Linked DNA regions of Homo sapiens: all the other regions are reported to be linked to region 1. Evidence: microRNA targets listed by miRTarBase, many of them from high-throughput screens and not tested one by one. Region 1 holds a microRNA gene; each other region holds the end of a gene's coding sequence.
Evidence for each region. The annotated mature microRNA hsa-miR-4324 reads CCCUGAGACCCUAACCUUAA and lies in region 1 at 2,295-2,314, opposite strand. An mRNA with a match to its seed (bases 2 to 7 or 8) in the 3' UTR can be bound and repressed. Matches are read on the target gene's strand: a 7mer-m8 pairs with bases 2 to 8, a 7mer-A1 pairs with bases 2 to 7 and ends in A, and an 8mer does both.

Region 1 (3,137 bases):
AATCACTATCCTTAGTTCTTTGTTTTTTTTTTTTCTTTTTTTTTTTTTTGAGAGAGAGTCTCACTCTGTTGCCCAGGTGGAATGCAGTGGCACAATCTCAGCTCACTGCAGCCTCCACCTCCCAGGTTCAAGCAATTCTCCTGCTTTGGCCTCCTGAGTAGCTGGGACTACAGGTGTGTGCCACCACGCCCGGCTAATTTTTGTATTTGTTAGTAGAGATGGGGTTTCACCATATTGGCCAGGCTGGTCTCAAACTCCTGACCTCGTGATCCATCTGCCTCAGCCTCCCAAAGTGCTGGGATTATAGGCATGAGCCACCGCACCCGGCTTGTTTTTCTTTACATTTGATCATCTATGTATGCGTATCTACTAAGCAATATAGTAACCACTATCCTGACTTTTATGATGGTTACCTCTGGGAGGCAGTAAAGAGATTATGATTAGAAAAAGATACACAGAGAGCATCTAGGGTTATTCTAGTTCTTAATACAGGTGATGTTTACTTCACGGTTCGTTACACAGTGCATTGTTTTATACACTTTTTTTTTTTTTTTGTTAGAGGAAGGGTCTCGCCCAGCTGATTTCAAACTCCTGGGTTCAAGCAATCCTCCCACCTCAGCCTCCCTAAGAGCTGGCATTACAGGCGTGAGCCACTGCTCCCGGCCTTGTTTTATGCATTTTTCCATATGTAGGTAATAGCTCATAATAAAAGGTTTTTTTGAAAATACACAAAAAAACTACCATTACACTCCCACCAGACTGGAAACAATTTAAAAGTCCAACCAAGTTTAATCAAGTGTTGTGCAAAAAGTAGAACAAATGGAAGTCTCACACATCCCTGATGGGAGGGCAATGCATTACGCCACTTTGAAAACCAGACAATATATGATAAAATTGAAGGGGAGCACACCCTACTCAGCAATTCCTTTCCTAACTATATGCTGTCAAGAACTCTTGCACACGCACACATGTATATTCCCAGGCATCTTCTAGAAGAAAATGGTGGTTATTTGTGAGGGTTAGGGTTACTAGGAGAGGTCGGGCGCGGTGGCTCACGCCTGTAATCCCAGCTCTTTGGGAGGCAGAGGCAGGAGGATGGCTTGAGCCCAGGAGTTCAAGACCTGCCTGAGCAATATAGTGGGACCCTGTTCTCAAAAATTTAAATTAAAAAAAAAAAATCTGCTGGGAGAGAGAGGAAGAGGAGGAGGAAGCAAAAAAAAAGAAAAAGAAAAAAAAGAAAAAGAAAAAAAAAAGATTACTGGGAGAAATTCAACTCAGGGTTGCCTCCTCTGGAAGGCCCCATCTGACTAGTCCAGACAGAATTAATGGCTCTGTCTCCTGTCCTCACCCATCACTTCAGTTACCAGTTAGCACAAGTTTTTGGCTGTCTCATTCTCCTTTCCTTCCCCCTCCAAAATTGAAAACTTAATGAAACAAGGACTGTGGTCTGATTCACCTGTCCAAGTCTCTGTTGTATAGAAAGAACACTTCCTAAATGTCTGTCTGATGGATGTTTTTGGAATTAATGCCTAAAAATAAGAAAAATAAGAAACAGGGGTGATCAGACAATCAAGGTTCTAGTACAGAGAATCCTTTTGGAGTTTCTGCTAGATTGACAGAAATCCCCAATTCAGGAGTTAACAGTTAAGAATGGGGGCCTTAGGGCGCGGTGGCTCACGCCTGTAATCGCAGCACTTTGGGAGGCTGAGGCGGGCGGATTATGAGGTCGGGAGATCGAGACCATCCTGGCTAACATGGTGAAACCCTGTCTTTACTAAAAATACAAAAAAATTAGCCGGGCCTGGTGATGGGCACCTGTAGTCCCAGCTACTCAGGAGGCTGAGGCAGGAGAATGGCTTGAACCCAGGAGGCAGAGCTTGCAGTGAGCCAAGTTCGCGCCACTGCACTCCAGCCTGGGTGAAAGAGCGAGACTCCATCTCAAAAAATAAAAATAAAATAAAATAATGGGGGCCTTCTACTTCTCCATTTTTCCAAGGATGGCCTTGGAAGTCTCTGTGTGGTATGGTCTTGGATGGTATTTTGTTGTGTATCTGGGATTAGAGAAGCCTTCAATGTTTGCAATTTTTAGTACATCCCTGTTAGCATATCCACTCTGAGGTGGATAGCTGGCAATCTCTGAGTTTGAAGATTTATTTCTAGGGTGACAAAAGGCTCTGAGAAGGATAATATATGATAGGAGATTCTATTGTCTCCATTTTTAGCTATGGGGAAGGTAGAGGGCTTGCAAGTGCACCCAAGGTTGAAATGTGTGAACATGGGTCTTTGCAGCACCTTTAAGGTTAGGGTCTCAGGGTTTTAAAGTTCCCTGGAGCTGAGACCCTTAACAAAGGGGCCGGCCTTACCTCTCACAGCAGCGATGTGTGATGACTGTCGCCCAGAAGCCCAGGACACAGAAGTTGAAAGATGTGAAAACCAACAAAGTGAGCAGGTTTATCACAGACACGAGAAAGGCATCACTGAGACAGTTGTTGGACTGGGGCATGTAGGAGGCTAAGGAGGCAACGGAGCCAAGGCCTATGCCTGTGTTAGACAAAACTTGACCCCCTGCTAGAGACCACACACTCATATTGTACACATCCGATATCTAAAAGAGAGAAGACAAGCATAAGGGGGTTGTAAAAGAAGAAGCAGAGGACAACTATAATAGAAATGTTGCAGGGAGGAGAGAGGGAGATACAAAAGTAAAGAATGGGGAAAGGAAGCTCTAAGAATAGGCAGCTGTGGTGCCCTACAAGGCCTGACGGGGGAGTGAGGAGATAGATTTCACCTTGGCAACCACCAACTGTTGAAGGCCAAATTTTGCCCCTTCCAGGAGTAGAGTCCGGATGAAGAAACCGACAATGATGAAACAGGGGAGCAGTACCAAGACATAGATTACCTGAATCGAGAGTGGGACATATCAGCAACCGTGTACCAGTAGGGGTCAACCAACAGTTAGGAGGGATCAAAAGTTCTGAGTCAGAAATGAGTAGGAGTTAGAAGAAAGCCTTCAGCAAGAGTCAGGGGCTAGGGGAGTAAAAGCCAAAGGAGTAAGAGATTAGGAGATCAACAAGTAACAAATTGAGGTAAGGGCTAAAGCATCTGAGAATTTCAAGGAATCCAATACTGGTGGCTCA
Region 2 (3,162 bases), not on the chromosome of region 1:
TATTGAGACGGAGTCTTGCTCTTGTTGCCCAGGCTGGAGTGCAATGGCGTGATCTTGGCTCACTGCAACCTCTACTTCCCGGGTTCAAGCGATTCTCCTGCCTCAGCCTCCTGAGCTGCTGGGATTACAGGCACCCGCCACCATGCCAGGTCAATTTTTTGTATTTTTAGTAGAGATGGGGTTTCACTATGTTGGCCAGGCTGGTCTTGAATTCCGGACCTCAGGTGATCCGCCCGCCTCAGCCTCCCGAAGTGCTGGGATTACAGGTGTGAGCCACCACGCCCGAATTCCTCTTGTAGGGATGTATGCATCAGATACACTTGCATAAATATGCACAGAAGTATGTTCAATGATGCTCTCGAAGCAGTATTTGTGGGGGTAAAAACAGGAAGCCACCCAACAATGTAGCCACAAGGAAGGAGGCAGATCCATGTGTACTAGACAGCCTTGGAGCCCTGTGGCATCCATTTGTCATTAAAGGGTAAGATGCAAGGTTCAGAGTAGTGTGCACAACATGATCCCTTTCAGGTTAAAATATAATTAACAGTCAACAAACTTATGGATACCATGAATAAAAGATATCAGTCCAGCTTCTTTAAAAAGTCAATACTGATGACCTCTGGAGACTAGGGATGGGTTCTTTGGGGTGGAAGGAGGATGATGGTTTACTTTTCACCATGTGCACTTGTGTGTGTTTTTAAAAATGTTTTGTAGAGATGAGCTCTCCCTGTATTGCCCAGGCTGGTCTCAAACTCCTGACTTCAAGTGAACCTCCTTGCCTTGACCTCCCAAAGCGCTGGGATTATTACAGGTGTGAGTGACTGCACCAGGCCTTCTGTATGCTTTTTTATCATAAGGATGTCTTCCAAGTGTCCGCCTGTACCCCCCCAAAAAATGGGCAGAGAACTCAAGAGGGCAGTTCTTCGTGGTCAAGTGGATACAATGTTCACCTGCTAACATTACAGTAAAGAACCTCCCTCCTCCCTGGGTACCCAGTGCACCAGCAAGGAGTTCAGCCTTCTGGGGATGATGCAGCACATACATGCAAGTGCAGGGCCCTCCCTGCCTCTTTTGCACACTGACAGCATATCACACATGGCGTTTCACACCATGCTTCTTTGTATTTAATGTCTATCTTGAGGAGCTTCTCAATGGCTATATCTACAGAGTGGGAAAAACTATTTGCAAACCATGTATCTGGTAAAGGGTTACTATCTGTCTCAACTTGGGCTGTTCTAACAAAATACCACAGACTGGGTAGCTTAAACAACAGGCATTTATTTCTCACAGCTCTGGAGGCTGGGAAGTCCAAGATGGTGGCTCCAGCAGATTCAGTGTCTGGTGAGGGGGGCTTCCTGGTTCACAGATGGTAGCTTCTAGCTGTGTCCTCACATGGCAGGAGGGGCAAAAGAGCTCCCTCGGGCATCTTTTATAAGAGCACTAATTCTATGCAAGAGGGCAGAGTCCTCAGGACCTAATCGCTTCCCTAAACTGTTGACCTTAGGGATGAGAGTTCAATATACGAATTTTTGGGGGACACAAACATTCAGGCCACAGCAGTATCCAAACTATATAAGGGACTCAAGTCAACAACAAAGAACAAATGACCCGGTGTATGCAAAAATGCTCAGTATCACCAACCGTTAGGGAAATGCAAATCAAAACCGCAATGAGAGAGATCACCTCATACCTGTTAGGATAGCTGTTATTAAAAAACACAAGATAAAGAATGTTGGCAACAATGTGGAGAAAAGGGAACCCTAGTGAACTGTTGGTGAGAATGGAAATTAGTACAGCCTTTATGGAAAACAGTATGGCGGTTCCTCAAAAAATTAAAAATAGAACCACCATTTGATGCAGCAATCCCACTTCTGGGTATACATATAAAAAAGAGATGAAATCATTATCTTCAAAAGATAGCTATACTCCCATGTTTACTGCAGCATTTCCACAACTGCCAAACTATGAAAACGACCTAAGTGTCTATTGGTGGACGGATTGGTAAGAAAATGTGGCATGTTATTTTTTACAAGGAAAGAAATCCTATCATTTGCAATAACATGGAGGAACCTGGAGAACATTATGTTAATAGAAATAAGCCAGACACAAAACAAATACCACATGATGCCACTTACATGAGGAATCAGCTGCTGAGCACTGGGTGTGGCCTGTCCCCTCCGCGTTGGCACACTGGCGGCTTCCACTCAGTGAGTTAACTTGGTGGGCTGCCCCTGACACAGGCTGGCCCTGCTACCCACATCTGCCTGCTGAAGAGCTCATATGACCCTCACTCTTGAGGGGACGTTAGCATCAAATCTCTCTCTCTGTTAACCCCCACACTGACTCCAGGCCCAAGCACGTCCCACAGCCATCAGGTCCCCACCCAAAGGGATCCCATGGGCTTTGCCCTGCAGACTTGGCCTGACCACTCAGAGGCAGGCGGGGCCATGACACAGACGGTTTATTCAGACCTCTCCACCCGCCACAGTTCCACATCCCAGTTCAGCAGGCCATTCTGTGACAGTTCCTACTGGTGGGTCTGTCTATGACAGCCCCATCCTGAGTTCCAAGTCCATGTCCTGACTGAGTGGTGAGTGTGCTCACTCGGTGCTCAGGAAGACTCTCTTGCGTGCGGTATTGGTGTAAGGGTGCCAGCGCCACTCCACGTCTGCTGTGGCCTCCTGCTCCAGCGTGCCCAGACGGATCATGTACACTGCAGGCAGGGATGGCATCAGCCCCGGCACAGCCAGCCTCCCCTCCCCACCCCAGACACGGGATTCAGCCTCAAACTCACGCTTCAGCTCAAAGCGGGGCCCGACCTCAGTGAGCTCCACGTTGCGGTGGTCTGTCTTCTTATACACATGGTGCCTGGGAGGGAACAGCTGTGGGTCAACGGCAAGCAGCACGAGGTACACAGGGTGGGGATGCTTTCCTGGGGCATGGCCCGTGGACCCACCGGAATGATATGTAGTCGTCCTGGTTTGCGAAGGTGATGACCCGGTGGCTGTCATCTTTGGGCACGGGAAATAGGTATCGGAGGATGTCAGAGACCTGGGGCACAAGGAAAGAGAGGGAAACAGAGTGGCAAATGCCTGGCCTGGCCCGCAGCCCCAGCCTGAAGGCCCCCAGACTCACCCGCTTGCCCAGGCGGGAGGAGAAGCC
Region 3 (3,170 bases), not on the chromosome of region 1:
CCGGAGAGCCGAGATTGCAGCCTCTGCCTGGCCGCCACCCCGTCTGGGAAGTGAGGAGCGTCTCTGCTTGGCCACCCATCGTCTGGGATGTGAGGAGCCCCTCTGCCTGGCTGCCCAGTCTGGAAAGTGAGGAGCGTCTCTGCCCGGCCGCCATCCCATCTGGGAAGCGAGGAGCGCCTCTTCCCCGCCGCCATCCCATCTAGGAAGTGAGGAGCGTCTCTGCCCGGCCGCCCATCGTCTGAGATGTGGGGAGCACCTCTGCCCCGCCGCCCTGTCTGGGATGTGAGGAGCGCCTCTGCTGGGCCGCAGCCCTGTCTGGGAGGTGGGGAGCGTCTCTGCCCGGCCGCTCCGTCTGAGAAGTGAGGAAACCCTCTGCCTGGCAACCGCCCCGTCTGAGAAGTGAGGAGCCCCTCCGTCCGGCAACCACCCCGTCTGGGAAGTGAGGAGCGTCTCCGCCCAGCAGCCACCCCGTCCGGGAGGGAGGTGGGGGGGGTCAGCCCCCCGCCCGGCCAGCCGCCCCGTCCGGGAGGTGAGGGGCTCCTCTGCCCGGCCGCCCCTACTGGGAAGTGAGGAGCCCCTCTGCCTGGCCAGCCGCCCCGTCCGGGAGGGAGGTGGGGGGATCAGCCCCCCGCCTGGCCAGCCGCCCCATCCGGGAGGTGAGGGGCGCCTCTGCCCGGCCGCCCCTACTGGGAAGTGAGGAGCCCCTCTGCCCGGCCAGCCGCCCCGCCCGGGAGGGAGGTGGGGGGGTCATCCTCCCACCTGGCCAGCTGCCCCATCCGGGAGGGAGGTGGGGGGGTCAGCCCCCCGCCTGGCCAGTCGCCCCGTCCGGGAGGTGAGGGGCGCCTCTGCCCGGCCGCCCCTACTGGAAAGTGAGGAGCCCCTCTGCCCGGCCAGCCGCCCCGTCCGGGAGGGAGGCGGGGGGGGGGGGGGGGGTCGGCCAGCCGCCCGGTCCGGGAGGGAGGTGGGGGGGGTCAGCCCCCCTTCCGGCCGGCCGCCCCGTCCGGGAGGTGAGGGGCGCCTCTGCCCGGCCGCCCCTACTGGGAAGTGAGGACCCCTCTGCCCGGCCAGCCGCCCCGTCCGGGAGGGAGGTGGGGGGGACAGCCCCCCGCCCAGCCAGCCGCCCTATCCAGGAGGTGAGGGGCGCGTCTGCCCGGCCGTCCCTACTGGGAAGTGAGGAGCCCCTCTGCCTGGCCAGCCGCCCCGTCCGGGAGGGTGGTGGGGGGGTCAGCCCCCCGCCCGGCCAGCCGCCCCATCCGGGAGGTGAGGGGCGCTTCTGCCCGGCCGCCCCTACTGGGAAGTGAGGAGCCCCTCTGCCCGGCCACGACCCCGTCTGGGAGGTGTGCCCAGCGGCTCATTGGGGATGGGCCACGATGACAATGGCGGTTTTGTGGAATAGAAAGGCGGGAAGGGTGGGGAAAAAATTGAGAAATCGGATGGTTGCCGGGTCTGTGTGGATAGAAGTAGACATGGGAGACTTTTCATTTTGTTCTGTACTAAGAAAAATTCTTCTGCCTTGGGATCCTGTTGATCTGTGACCTTATCCCCAACCCTGTGCTCTCTGAAACATGTGCTGTGTCCACTCAGGGTTAAATGGATTAAGGGCGGTGCAAGATGTGCTTTGTTAAACAGATGCTTGAAGGCAGCATGCTCGTTAAGAGTCATCACCACTCCCTAATCTTAAGTACCCAGGGACACAAACACTGCGGAAGGCCAAGGCCGCAGGGTCCTCTGCCTAGGAAAACCAGAGACCTTTGTTCACTTGTTTATCTGCTGACCTTCCCTCCACTATTGTCCTATGACCCTGCCAAATCCCCCTCTGCGAGAAACACCCAAGAATGATCAATAAAAAAAAAATAAATTAATTAAAAAAAAAAAAAAAAAAAGAAAACCTATTCAAGATTTCAGGTGCTTTTTTTTTTTTTTTTTTTTTTTTTTTTTGAGATGGAGTCTCGCTCTTGTCCCCCAGGCTGGAGTACAATGGTGCAATCTCAGCTCACTGCAACCTCTGCCTCCCAGGTTCAAGCGATTCTCCTGCCTCAGCCTCCTGAGTAGCTGGGATTACAGGCGCCTGACACCACGCCCGGCTAATTTTTGTATTTTTAGTAGAGATGGGGTTTCACCATGTTGGCCAGGCTGGTCTTGAACTCCTGACCTCAGGTGATCTGCCCGCCTCGGCCTCCCAAAGTGGTGGGATTACAGGCATGAGCCACCGCATCCGGCCAGATTTCAGGTGCTTTTAAAAAGTAACTGAAATTTTATTTTTACTTAATTCCTTTATTTATATATATATATATACCTGAAATTAAGGCAAAAAGCATGATATGAGACCCAAAAAAGCTCATATCCTACTCAACTAAAAGTGTTTAGGACCTAAACAGGGCAAAAGATTTAAATAGCACTAACAGCTCAAGGAATGTATAGGTTAAACCTTTTGTTTTACATCCAGAAAATTAGAAAACTCAGCTAAACATTGTATATATCACAAGGTTTTAAAAATAATTTGTAAGATTTAATCTTACCAAGAAAGCTTACTCATTTAAAGACTTCTTTATACCGGCCCTTCATATCATCAGTGGAAACTGTTTATTAAAAGGGAGGAGTATGGGATACACAAATAGCATAAATCGAAATCTCACACTTAATCCTTTAATGTTAATTGCATTTCAGACTGAGTAAAGTCTGACTAAAAATCACAGCAATGGGACAAAGCACTGCTTTGTTTTAAAACTGCACATGTGCTTTCTCCCCTGAGAACCTTTGGCTTAGACTTTTTGTACAGTAAGACATTTCATTAAATATGGTTAGATTTGCAGTCTAAGACCTTAAGTGACACACTCAATGACAACATTCTTATAAATTATAGCCAATTATAAGTCCTCCTTCTGGTTTCTCTTCTGTGCTTCGTAAATATGTACATCTTTTTCAGGATCGTAGTGAACCTTTCTCACAGTAAATTGCCTCTCCAGCATTGCTAAGAAGTTGTTATCCCGTTCATAGCGAATTCGGCATGCTAAAAGAATCACAGAGTGATTGCTACAGAGATGTTCCAGTGTCTGAAGAAGATCTGTGAATGTTTCTTCTAAATATATGATATCAGCACCAAGTATCAGGTCAAATTCTCCAGGAGAAAAACTCCCCAAATTTTGTCCCCAAGTCAGCTCCTTAACAAC
Region 4 (3,000 bases), not on the chromosome of region 1:
GCATACTCACCTGCACACTGCTGCTGCTCTACTCCTTGGCCCCCACCATGGGTGCAGTTGTCCTCTCCTCCACTCTCCTGTCCTTCTCCACTGCCATTGGCAGGACGTGCATCACGGACCTCCAGCTGACTGTGGGCGGGGCCCAGGCCAGCGGCACCCTTATTGGCGTGGGGCAGTCTGTGACTGCAGTGGGCCGCATCATCGCCCCTCTCCTCTCGGGGGTTGCCCAGGAGGTCAGCCCTTGCGGCCCCCCCAGCCTGGGCGCTGTGTTAGCCTTAGTGGCCATTTTCATAATGTCTCTAAACAAGCGACACTCTAGTGGTGATGGGAATAGTAAATTAAAAAGTGAGTAGATGGATTTGGACAACATAAAGCAACAAAATTTGAGATGGTTGAATGAGGGCCGGAGGCCATGATGAAAAGGGCACTTTGGAAAGGGTTGGGGTGGAAGGGAAATATTTCCGGGTGGGTGTGAGCTGTTGGGCTTCCAGGTCAGCTCTTGGCCATGCAGCCATGCCTGCAGGATGATCAGAAGTCACGGCACCTCATGGGAAGGTTAAGACTGGAGCAAAGCTTTTCCAAGGTGAGCATATTCAGCGTTTACCTGGAAGTCTCTTCTTCCCACCTGGGCTAATCAGGTTACAATTTTCAAGGGTAAACAAACTACCAGCTACAGGATAGGGAAGTGGTGGTGGAATAAGAGAACATGATACCTGGAGGAAGGGAAGAAACCACAAGCATTTTCCTACTGAAAAATAGGGTGACATGTCAGTCAAATTCTGATCAACTGGAACTTGAGTTTCCAGTTAAATTCCATACACTAGGAGGGAGTTTTCTATCAAAATCCTGCAGATTGAAGAAGCTGGTTTATTAGAACCAGCCTGTCGCTTTTCAAAGCTGCTTAAAAATAAGATACTGACCTCACCCCTAGAGATGATTCAGTGGGCCTGGGTGGGGCCAAGAAATCCGTGGTGTTTTGTAAGCACTGCTGGCGATTTCTCATGGCAGTAAAGACCACACTGAGACTGCACTGATTTTGATTAAAGTACATAGGCTTGGCTGTTTTTACACAGCTAACTAAATTTGGACTCTTAAAATTGTGTTTGTAATCACAGTGTGTTACACCTTTCCCAGCTCTCAGCAGTTGTACTGCATGATGGAGCAGCGGGCCCCTGGGACCTGTTCCCTGTGCTCCCTGCCTCTGAGAGCCCAGCTTGCTCTGAAGTTGGACTAAACCACTTAGATGCTGGGGTTGCCACAGCCTGCTCCTGGAAGCCTGCATTCCAGTCAGGTTGCATCCTTCTGGTGCTGACAGAACCCAGTGGTGAAGCCAAAGCACAGGAATGCTTTAAAAATGAACAGTTTATGCAGAATAAGGGTCAGGAGTCATGCCAGACCAGAACTTGATGCTACTGTGTCTTGTGTTAAGAATCATTTCCTGGCCAGGCTCGGTGGCTCAGGCCTGTAATCCCAGCACTTTGGGAGGCTGAGGCAGGTGAATCACTTGGTCAGGAGATGGAGACCATTCTGGCTAACATGGTGAAACCCCGTCTCTACTAAAAATACAAAAAAAAAATTAGCCGGGCGTGATGGCGGGCGCCTGCAGTCCCAGCTATTCGGGAGGCTGAGGTAGAATGGCGTGAACCTGGGAGGCGGAGCTTGCGGTGAGCCAAGATTGTGCCACTGCTCTCCAGCCTGGGCGACAGAGTGAGACTCCGTCTCAAAAAAAAAAGAATCATTTCCTTTATTTTTAGTTTCACGCCTGCAAACACAAGCATTCTGTTGATCAACGGAAATATTTTGATGTGCCATTTCTTGTCTAAACAAGTTTCATATACAGCACCGAGGGGGCCACGAGAGGCAGAGGCCCAGACAGAAGGTGAACATAGCCTTGCAGGGAGACATATGCCAGGCAGGATGACCATTGGGATTGCATCAAGTATTAATCAGTTACTTAAGGGCTTCCTGTCAGACAGTTGAAGTTCACATTCCTTTTACTTTTCTTAATTAGTCCACTAGGATGGTATGCCTGTTTTCAACTTAACACATGCATACTTGTAAATATTTTAGTATGCTACAGTAATTTGTCATATCTTTAATATTTATTGTTTGTAAAGCAGTAAACATTTCTGTATTTTAGAAGTCATGGAGTAAAATCAAATATTTATGATAAATAATTGGAAGTATGTTTTAGTTTGAAGATTGTCCTTTTTCCTATCTTGCTGCAAGGAAAAATGGACTTCTGATTAGGTTTTACAATTGTGAACTTTTATGTAAATGTTAAGTGCTTTCGAGGAGACCAAACTATTATTAATATATAAAATGGCCTTGCCCTTAAGGAGCAAATTAAATCTCATGGAGATTAGACTCAAAAGGCAATAAATAATCGAGGGTTTATGCAATGAAATAGAATTTCAGAAGAGTTTGGATCTCAAAGATTGTCCTTCACTCTCAGAAACAGGCAAGTTTCTTAAAAGCCCTTATAGTCGTGTTTTTATTTTAAAAATCGTAGCACTTTATTTTTGAAGTTTAAAAAGCCCATAAACTTAATGAGTCTTTATAATCAGACACATGGAAATATAGAAAACCAAAGACTGATCTTAGAATATAGAGTAGAGAGACATGTTTGTTATTCTCCACTAGTGACTTTAGTATTTTGTTATGTGATGTTTTTTAGGTGCACCTTTTCTCATGACTCCTTTTACTTTATCTAATGTCTTCCTCTTTAAAGTGTGACCCAGAGACCAGTAGCATCAGCATCACCTGAGACCTGTGAACACTGAAGCTCCAGCTCAGACATGTTGGGGACCATTTTAATAAGATACCTAGCTGATTTTTTGCACAGCAAACTTTGAAAACCCCTGGTCTAAGGGGTAGTATTTGTATCACTTATGGAATATAATCTCAGGGAAATTAAATCTGCTCAATTGACATTTGTGGTGTTTCATTTTTTAAATTCTCTTGAGTAACTTCTGTAGCCCTTTCCAGTGTGTCAGGTTG

Region 2: miRTarBase lists IMP4 as a target of hsa-miR-4324. Seed matches in the 3' UTR shown: 7mer-A1 at 2,558-2,564.
Region 3: miRTarBase lists METTL21A as a target of hsa-miR-4324. Seed matches in the 3' UTR shown: 7mer-m8 at 2,747-2,753.
Region 4: miRTarBase lists SLC67A2 as a target of hsa-miR-4324. Seed matches in the 3' UTR shown: 7mer-m8 at 2,903-2,909.

Annotation. Positions count from the first base shown.
Region 1 is chr19:49,306,513-49,309,649 of GRCh38, forward strand. MIR4324 (microRNA 4324) reads right to left here and starts at 2,356; the gene lies at 2,285-2,356. It overlaps SLC6A16 (solute carrier family 6 member 16), which reads right to left. Exons shown (of 12, transcript NM_014037.3): 6 at 2,789-2,899; 7 at 2,364-2,605.
Region 2 is chr2:130,345,907-130,349,068 of GRCh38, reverse strand. IMP4 (IMP U3 small nucleolar ribonucleoprotein 4) reads right to left here. Exons shown (of 9, transcript NM_033416.3): 6 at 3,136-3,162; 7 at 2,957-3,051; 8 at 2,795-2,868; 9 at 1,102-2,713. The coding sequence ends at 2,601. Among named protein-coding and RNA genes, the nearest start is that of IMP4, 4.6 kb to the right of the region's middle.
Region 3 is chr2:207,610,179-207,613,348 of GRCh38, forward strand. It overlaps METTL21A (methyltransferase 21A, HSPA lysine), which reads right to left. Exons shown (of 4, transcript NM_001127395.5): 4 at 2,561-3,170. The coding sequence ends at 2,868. Among named protein-coding and RNA genes, the nearest start is that of METTL21A, 14 kb to the right of the region's middle.
Region 4 is chr2:102,715,773-102,718,772 of GRCh38, reverse strand. SLC67A2 (solute carrier family 67 member 2) reads left to right here. Exons shown (of 6, transcript NM_032718.5): 6 at 1-3,000. The coding sequence ends at 353. Among named protein-coding and RNA genes, the nearest start is that of SLC67A2, 20 kb to the left of the region's middle.